2 separate regions of the Homo sapiens genome follow, and region 1 is linked to region 2. Evidence: fine-mapped expression QTL. A gene starts in region 2. The other region holds a variant in brackets. All regions are shown on one strand. Distances are between the middles of the regions. Region 1 overlaps GTF2IRD1 (GTF2I repeat domain containing 1). Region 2 holds the start of GTF2IRD1 (GTF2I repeat domain containing 1).

Region 1 (4,511 bases), 38 kb after region 2:
CAGTCCCTTTTTTTATTTGAGACGGAGTCTTGCTCTGTTGCCCAGGCTGGAGTGCAATGGTGTGATCTCAGCTCACTGCAACCTCCGCCTCCTGGGTTCAAGCGATTCTCCTGCCTCAGCCTCCCAAGTAGCTGGGATTACAGGCATGTACCACCACACCTGGCTAATTTTTGTATTTTTAGTAGAGACGGGGTTTCGCCATGTTGGCCAGCCTGGTCTCAAACTCCTGACCTCAGGTGATCTGCCCACCTTGGCCTCCCAAAGTGCTGAGATGACAGGTGTGAGCCACCACTCCTGGCCTGGTTTCAGTTCCTTTCTAAGGGCAAGGACAGCTCTCCTAGAAGTCCCTCATGTCTCAGTGGCCAGAATTGGGTTCTGGCCTCTCCTTACACCTGTCCCAGCTAGGGGAAAAGGAGTGCCTTGCTCTGAGCCTTGGAGAATCACCAAAGTTCCTCCCAGGGACTGGGAGGGCCCAGCTGCCCCAAGCACTGGTTGTTGGGACAACCCAGCAAAGTTTGTCCCATCTTTAGATACCAGGACACAACGGGGGGATTCTGTTAGCAGGGAGTGGGGCAGAGGACTTGGAGGACAGCTTTTGGGGTCAGATCCAGGACTGGAACTCAGATTTTTTTTGTGTGTGTGTGTGACAGAGTCTAGCTCTGTCCCCTGGGTTGGACTGCAGTGCTGCAGTCATAGCTCATTGCAGCCTTGACCTCCCGTGTCAAGCTATCCTCCTGCCTCAGCACCCCGAGTAGCTGGGACAACAGGCACGCACCACCACACCTGGCTAACTTTTTTGTTTTTTTGTAGAGATGGGGTCTCACTGTGCTGCCCAGGCTGATCTTGAACTCCTGGGCTTGATCCTCCTGCCTTAGCCTCCCAAAGCACTGGGATTACAGGCGTGAGCCACTGCGCCCAGTGAGACCCCAGGTGTCTTAACCATGACCCCAGACTGCCTTCTACTGCACTGCGGCTGGGTGTAAGACCCCCTCCCGCTGCCCAGCCCAGAGCCTGGCCTGAGCAGATACGAATGGAAGGCCAGGGCTGTGACTGGCAGTGTTCTTCCCGGCTACAGTGACAGTGGTGGTGGGGGAGGGCAGGAATCCAGGACCCCCAGGCCACTCTACCCCCACTGGGGAGCCTCTGGGACTAGAGAGGGAGTATTCAGAGGGAGGCTGAGGCTGCTGGGGAGAAAGGATACCCCCCCCCCCGCCCGCCTTCCAGAAGGGGAGAAATTTCTTTTTTGTTTGTTCTCTCAAGCTTCTTTTTCAAGAAACAAGCATATGGCAGCGGATGGTGCGGGGGCCGTGTTTGGGTGGGGTGTGTGCCTGCCTTTGCCTTTTACGTGGTTGGGTGTATTTTTTTTTTTCTCCATCAGCTCCAACGCCCCAGCTGGTCCATAGGGCAGTGAGACTTGAATCACAGAGACGCTTCTCTGGTGTCCAGAAAAATCCGGCTCTTTCTAGTGGCGCTTCCAAGGGGGAAGAGATTGGAGAGCTCTCCAGCAAACCCAGGCCTGAGCTTTGCAGAGGTCTGAGCTGAGGACTGAGTGTCCAAGGGGCTGAGGATGTGGACTGTCTTTGTGAGGTGGGGTACAGCCAGTGAAGGAGCCAGTGTTAATTTCCTGAAGCTGCTGTAACACGGGCCACACAGACTTCGTGCCTTAAAGCAACAGAAATTTCAGGCCGAGTGCGGTGGCTCATGCCTGTAATCCCAGCACTTTGGAAGGCTAAAGTGGGCAGATCATGAGGTCAGGAGTTCAAGACCATTCTGGCCAACATGGTGAAACCCCATCTCTACTAAAAATACAAAAATTAGATGGGCGTGGTGGCAGGCACCTGTAATCCCAGCTACTCAGGAGGCTGAGGCACGAGAATCGCCTGAACCCTGGAGGTGGAGGTTGCAGTGAGCTGAGATCCCACTGCTGCACTCCAGCCTGGGTGACAGAGTGAGGGAGAAAAAAAAATTCTTTTTTTTTTTTTTTTTTTTTTTACTTTGAGGTTCTTGGGTACAAGTGTGCAGGTTTGTGACATAGGTAAACTTGTGTCATGGGGGTTTGTTGTACAGATTCTTTTTTCACCCAGGTATTAAGCCCAGTACCCAATAGTTATTTCTTATGATCTTCTCCCTCCTCCCACCCTCCACCTTCTGAAAGGCCCCAGTGTGTGTTGCCCCCCTCTCTGTGTC[C/T]ATGTGTTCTCATTGTTCAGCTCCCACTTATAAGTGAGAACATGCAGTATTTGGTTTTCTGTTCTTGTGTTAGTTTGCTAAGGATAATGGCCTCCAGCTCCATCCATGTCCCTGCAAAGAACATGATCTTGTTCTTTTTTGTGGCTGCATAGTATTCCATGGTGTATACCTACCACATTTTCTTTACCCAGTCTATCATTGATGGGCATTTAGGTTGATTCCATGTTTTTGCTGTTGTGAATAGTGCTGCAGTAAACATACGTGTGCATGTGTCTTTATTGTAGAATGATTTCTATTCCTTTGGGTATATACCCAGTAAGGGATTGCCGGGTCCAATGGTATTTCTGTCTTTAGGTTTTTGAGGAATCACCACACTGTCTTCCACAATGGCTGAACTAATTTACAACAGTGTATAAGTGTTCCTTTTTCTCCACAACCTCACCAACATCTGTTATTTTCTTGTTCGTTTGTTTTTGTTTTTGTTTTTGTTTTGAGACGGAGTCTTACTCTGTTGTCCAGACTGGAATGCAGTGGTGCAATCTCAGCTCACTGCAACCTCTACTTCCTGGGTTCAAGCAATTCTCCTGCCTCAGCCTCCCGAGTAGCTGGGATTACAGGCACACACTACCATTCCCGGCTAATTTTTTTTTTTTTTTTTTGAGACAGAGTCTCACTCTGTCGCCCAGGCTGGAGTTCAGTGGCGTGATCTCGGCTCACCGCAAGCTCTGCCTCCCGGGTTCACGCCATTCTCCTCCCTCAGCCTCCCGAGTAGCTGGGACTACAGGTGCCTGCCACCACGCCTGGCTAATTTTTTGTATTTTTAGTGGAAACTGAGTTTCACCATGTTAGCCAGGATGGTCTTGATCTCCTGACCTCATGATCTGCCCACCTTGGCCTCCAAAAGTGCTGGGATTACTGGTGTGAGCCACCACGCCTGGCCCAGCATCTGTCATTTTTTGACTTTAATAATAGCCATTCTGACTGGTGTGAGATGATATCTCATTGTGGTTGTGATTTGCATTTCACTCATGATCAATGATGTTGATTGAGTCTTTTTTCATAAGATTGTTGGCTGCATGTACATCTCCTTTTGAAAAGTGTCTGTTCATGTCCTTTGCCCATGTTTTTATGAGAACAAGAGAAATTTCTATTCTCACAGTTCTGGAGGCCAAAGGTCCAAAATCATTACCACTGGGCCAAAATCAAGGTGCCGACAGTGCCATGCTCCCTCCAGAGGCTCTCGGGGGGAATCTGTTCCTGGCCTCTTCTAGCTCCTGGGGGCTGCCAGCACTCCTGGGCTTGTGGCCGCATCACTCCAGTCTTCAAGGCCAGCATCTTCCAATCTCTCTCTACTTCGTCTTCACTTGGACTTCTCTTCTATATGGATGTCCAGTCTTCCTCTACCCTATTTTTAAAAAATGTTTGTAGAGCTGGGGTCTTGCTGTGTTGCTCAGGCTAGTCTCAAACTCTTAGCCTCAAGTGGTCCTCCTGACTTGAAGTGATCCTGCTGCCTTGGCCTCCCAAAGCACTGAGATTACAGGAATGAGCCACTGTGCCTGGCATGACCTCTTCTTCTTCTTCTTTTTTTTTTTTTTTTGAGATAGGGGTCTCACTGTCTTGCTCAGGCTGGAGGGCAGTGACGTGATCTCAGCTCACAGCATCCTTGACCTCCTGGGCTCAGGGGATCCTCCCATCTCAGCCTCCCGAGTAACTGGGACTATAGGCATGCTCCACCACACCCAGCTAATTTTTTTTTATTTTTTGTAGAGATGGGGTCTCACTATGTTTCCCAGGCTGGTCTCAAACTCCTGGGCTCAAGCAATCCTCCTGCCTTGGCCCCCAAAGTGCTGGGCTTACAGGTATGAGCTACCGCGCCCGGCCATGACCTCTTCTTATAAGGATGCATGTGATGGCATTTAGAGCCTACCCGGCTAAGCCAGAATAATCCCCTACCTCAAGATCCTTAATCACATCTGCAAAGTGATTTTGCCATATAAGGTAACACAGGCTCTGGGGATTAGGACATGGCTGTCTTTTGGAGGTCATTTTTTTGAGCCTATCTCGGGTCTCTAAGGGCAAACTCCAGCAGCCATTCTAGTAGACAGGTTCTCCTGTGATAGATGCCGGCCAGGTAAAGGAGACAAATGGAAGATCCCAGCTGACCCACCTCGGCTCTGTCCCCTCTGAGGGGACCTTATTCTCATTTATGTGGACTCCCTAAGCCATATATCTAGGCTGGAGTGCAGTGGTGTGATCTTGGCTCACTGCAGCCTTGACCTCCTGGGCTCAGGGGATCCTCCCATCTCAGCCTCCCAAGCAGCTGG
Region 2 (4,245 bases):
GGTCAGCCAAAGTTAACCCTCACCAAGTTCCTGGTGTGTGTCCAGAAGAGACCCCAGTGTAATTGTCTGACGGGTGTTCCTGCCGCTGCACAGGAAGAATTCACTGAGACCATGGTATTACAGCGAGAAATAGTTTTATGTTTCTTAATTTTTAAAATTTTTTAGACAGTCTTACTCTGTCGCCCAGGCTGGAGTGCAGTGGTGCGATCTTGGCTCACTGCAACCTCCGCCTCCCAGGTTCAAGCGATTCTTATGCCTCAGCCTCCTAAGCAGCTGGGATCACAGGTGCCTGCCACCACGCCCGGCTAATTTTTGTGTTTTTAGTAGAGACAGGGTTTCACCATGTTGGCCAGGCTGATCTTGAATGCCTGACCTCAAGTGATCCACCTGCCTCGGCCTCCCAAAGTGTTAGGATTACAGGCATGAGCCACCGTGCCTGGCCTAATTTTTGAAACACAGTCTCACTCTGTCACCCAGGCTGGAGTGCAGTGGCTGAATCTTGGCTCACTGCAGCCTCCACCTCCTGGGTTCCAGTGATTCTCATGCGTCAGCCTTCTGAGTAGCTGGGATTACAGGCATGCACCACCACACCCGGCTAATTTTTGTATTTTTAGTGACCAGGTTTCGCTGTGTTGGCCATGCTGGTCTTGAACTCCTGACCTCAAGCAATCCACCCACCTTCGCCTCCCAAAGTGCTGGGATTACAGGCATGAGCCACTGAGCCCAGCCAAAAGCGTCTTATTAATGCAGAGCTAGCCAAGCAGTAGGACTGGAGTTATTACTCAAATAAATCTCCCCAAGAACTCAGAGGCTAGGGTTTTTATGGATAATTTGGTGGGCAAGGGCCCAGGGAATGGGTACTGCTGATTGGTTGGAGATGAAATCACAGGGGTGTGGCAAACGGTCCTTATGCACTGAGTCGGTCTCTGAGTGGGGGCCACAGGATGGGCTGAGTCATGAGTCACACAGGTCCAGGTGAGTCAGTCGGTTGCCCGAATGCGAAAGTCTGAAAAACATCTCCAAAGACCAATCTCAGTTTCCACAATAGAGATGCTATCTATAGGAGGAAGTGGGGAACTCACAAATCTTGTGATCTCTCGCCACATGACTCCTGAGCAGTCAGATTATAAAAACGATGCGTAGGTTTTAGCAGCGTCCAGGCCCCTCCCATAATCCTAATCTCACGGCCTTTCGTTAGTTTTACAAAGGTGGTTTTGGTCTCTTGTATAAAAAGCAGGTTAGGTTTAAGGAGTAACTATTATCATCCTTGTTTCAAAGTTGAACTATAAACTAAATTCCTCCCCCGGTTAGCTTGGCCTATGCCCCGGAATGAGTGAAGACAGCCAGCGCGTGAGGCTGGAAGCAAGATGGAGTCAGCCACGCTAAACTTCTGTCACTGTCCTAATCTTTGCAAAGGCAGTTTGGCCAGGAGGCTGTGGGGAGACCTTGTGGGTTTTGCCAGGACCTGGGAGATTCTCGATCTATGTTTGGCTGTCCTTCTAAGCCAGAAGCTCCCTGGGGTTGGGGCCTGCCTGGGGTGAGTCCCTCCCTCCCTGCCATGCCCAGTCTAGCCAAGGTCTAGTTCAGGGATCAGGGCACCACGTGGGGGAAGGACTGTGTTCCTTGTGCTGAATTAGGATTTATGGCTTTGGGGCCGGATGGGAGGCGTGCGCACTGATTCAGTAGGAGCGCTGCTGTGGTGTGTGTGTGGTTGGTGGGAGCGGGGCGGGCGGGGGGCGGGGGGGCTGGTTGGGGGGACAGGGGTAAAAGCCTATCAGAGGGAGGTCCCATCAGACAAGATGGGACCAAGAGTCCAGTTGGCTCTGCTGCGACTTTCGGCCTGTCACTGCCTTCCTGCACATCTCAGGGGTGGGAGGGGGACAAAGGCTGTAAGAGTAAGAGGTACCTGGCCCAAGCCTTAGGACTAGAACCCGGGCCAGGCGGGAGTGACCAGCCGGGACACTCAGGGCCTCCGCGCGTTCCAGCTGGGTGACCTTGACCCTCCAACTTCAGCCCCCTGCGCCCGGCTGCTCTCCCAGTGGTGGTGGGGAGCGGTGGGGGTAGACGGGGGCGCGCCCAGGCTTTTCTAATCCGGCGCTGGTGGGGGAGAACCGAGGGCGCCACCGCCCCTCCCCGCAGGTCCGGGGCCGAGGGGTGCGGCGCGCTCTCCCCACCGCGGTGCCCAGGTCCCCGGGACGCAGGGGCGCTGGGTAGCAAGGGGGGTGCGCAGGGGCGCGGGGCGCGGGGCGGGCTAATCCCGTATGTAAATGGCAGCCAATGGAGGGTGGTGTTGCGCGGGGCTGGGATTAGGGCCGGGGCGAATGGCTGGCAATCTTACTGGGATTACAGAACAAAGAGCCTCCCCGCGCTCCCGCTCTCCGCTCCTCTCCCCGCGCCGCCCCGCCCTCCGCCGCAGCCCGCGCCGGGGGTGGGGGCCGCCGAGCGCCAGCCCCCCGGCCGGCCGATTCCCCCCCCGCGCCCCCTCCCCGCGCCTCCCTCCCCGCCCTCGCCGCGCCGCCGTCCTCGCCTCCCTCTGCCTCTCCTTCCCCCATTCTCCCGGATTAATTAAGGAGGCAGCGGCAGGAGGCTGAGTCCTGGCCGCGGGCCGGGGCCGGGGCGCCGCTGGCAGGAGCGCTTGGGGATCCTCCAAGGTAGGAGAAACTTTTGCGGGGGGCGGGCACCGAGGCCCTTCTCCCCTTCTCCCCCACCCCCGCCCCCGATCCCCTCCGCCTCCGGGGGGGGGGGTCCCCGCCCCTCCCCCTCTCAAGGTGTTACAGGAGCTGGGGCCGGCTTTTGGGTGCCCGGGGAGGCACGTGACTGGGATTATAATTCGGGCCCGGGGGGAGGGGAGGGACGGCCGCCCCCCACCTGCCCGGGAGGGGCCGGGAGCTGGGAGCTGTCACCCCCTCCCTCCTTGCCACCGGCTCTTCTGGAGGTGGGGGGCGTCCCGGGCCGGCGCCCGCAGGCTGCTGCAGTTGGCGAATGAGGTCAGTCGCGCTGCCCGCGGTGGCGGGCGCCGGGGTGGGAGCAGAGGGGGCTGGGAAGGCCGCGGTCCCCGCCTTTCCCCCCTCCACCTTCTCCCGGTCTGGGCCAGCCCCTGGCCCGCGCCCCCAACTCCCAGGCGGAGTCCAGTCCAGCCAGGATTGCCCCAGCAGGGTGGTTCCTGTAGTGGACCCCCCGCCCCGGCCCCGGGGAGGGGGCTGGCCTGTGTGGTGGTGGCCGCTGAATCCCGGGTGGAGGGGACTCAGAAGGTGGCAGTGGGGGGACCACAAAGGGTTCAGAGGAGTAAGTTGGGGATACTCGGTCTGTGGGTGGTCTCTGAGTTCCTGCAGATGGGTGGAGAGGACAGAGGAGGGGCCACAGGGTGCTGAACACCCACCCGCCCCATCCTAAGTACCCTGGGCATGATGGGCTTGACACCTCTCCTGGGCTCCTCACCCCTGGCCAGCAGCCAGGGAGTGAGACCCTGCCTCGCCTGGCGTGGGCCCAGGGAAGGGGGCCGCTGTGCCGCTGAGAGTTCGTTCCACCCTCCTGGCAGTGCTGGAGGGGGCTGGAGCTCTGGCGTCTGGCCTAGTGACCCTACCTCCCAGGACCAAGGTCCTGCGGTGGGAGTCTCCTGTGTCCCCATCCCAGCTGAAGCGAGGGTGCTGGGACATAGGGGTCTCGCTGCAGGGCCTGTGAGGGGAGCACTGACTCTTGGATGGAGAATGTGCCAAGGGGTACCCCGGGATGGCCCTGGGCCTGGCGGGTGGGAGTGGAGGGCAGGCCCCCGCAGTTTTTGGAGAAGTGGGCATTTGCTGGGGTTTCTCTTAGAAGAGGAGAGGGGTGTCTAGAAGCCACCCTGGCGCGCCGCTGCCATGGTCGGCCTCTGTGTGTCTGGCTGCCCCGTGGCCAGGACTGTTGACTCCTTGGCACTGGCCCGGGGCCTTGGGACTTGGAAGGTGCCCCAAGCAGCTCATTTATTTCAGCAGTGTCATTCCAGAGGGGAAGGGCACCAGCATCGATTATTTATTCTAAGCAGGAGGAGGTGGCTGGAGGCTGGTGGCTGCTGGCAGGGAGGGGCTAGGTATAAGGTAGTTAGGTGGCCGTCATGAACCGCCCTATTTGGGGCCCAGGAGGGTGTGAGATAGACTCTGACCTCTTCTGAGCAGGCATCTGCGGACCAAGGGACAGGCTTGGCCCCAAGGTGACAGGGTATCGGAACCCCCATCCTGCCTCTGGGGTGTGGGAGGCTCAAGTCCACAC

What was found. PIP is the estimated chance that this variant, and not a neighbour inherited with it, causes the effect. A credible set is the group of variants that fine-mapping cannot tell apart.
Region 1: its variant is the best candidate, but not a certain one, in a credible set for the expression of GTF2IRD1 in lung (TOPMed, PIP 0.56).

What each region holds. Positions count from the first base shown.
Region 1 is chr7:74,489,343-74,493,853 of GRCh38, forward strand. All of the region lies in intron 1 of GTF2IRD1 (GTF2I repeat domain containing 1), which reads left to right. Among named protein-coding and RNA genes, the nearest start is that of GTF2IRD1, 38 kb to the left of the region's middle. The variant C/T (reference allele first, on the strand shown) is at 2,188.
Region 2 is chr7:74,451,526-74,455,770 of GRCh38, forward strand. GTF2IRD1 (GTF2I repeat domain containing 1) reads left to right here and starts at 2,381. Exons shown (of 27, transcript NM_005685.4): 1 at 2,381-2,651. RefSeq lists an enhancer at 677-1,196 and silencers at 2,082-2,431, 2,934-3,003.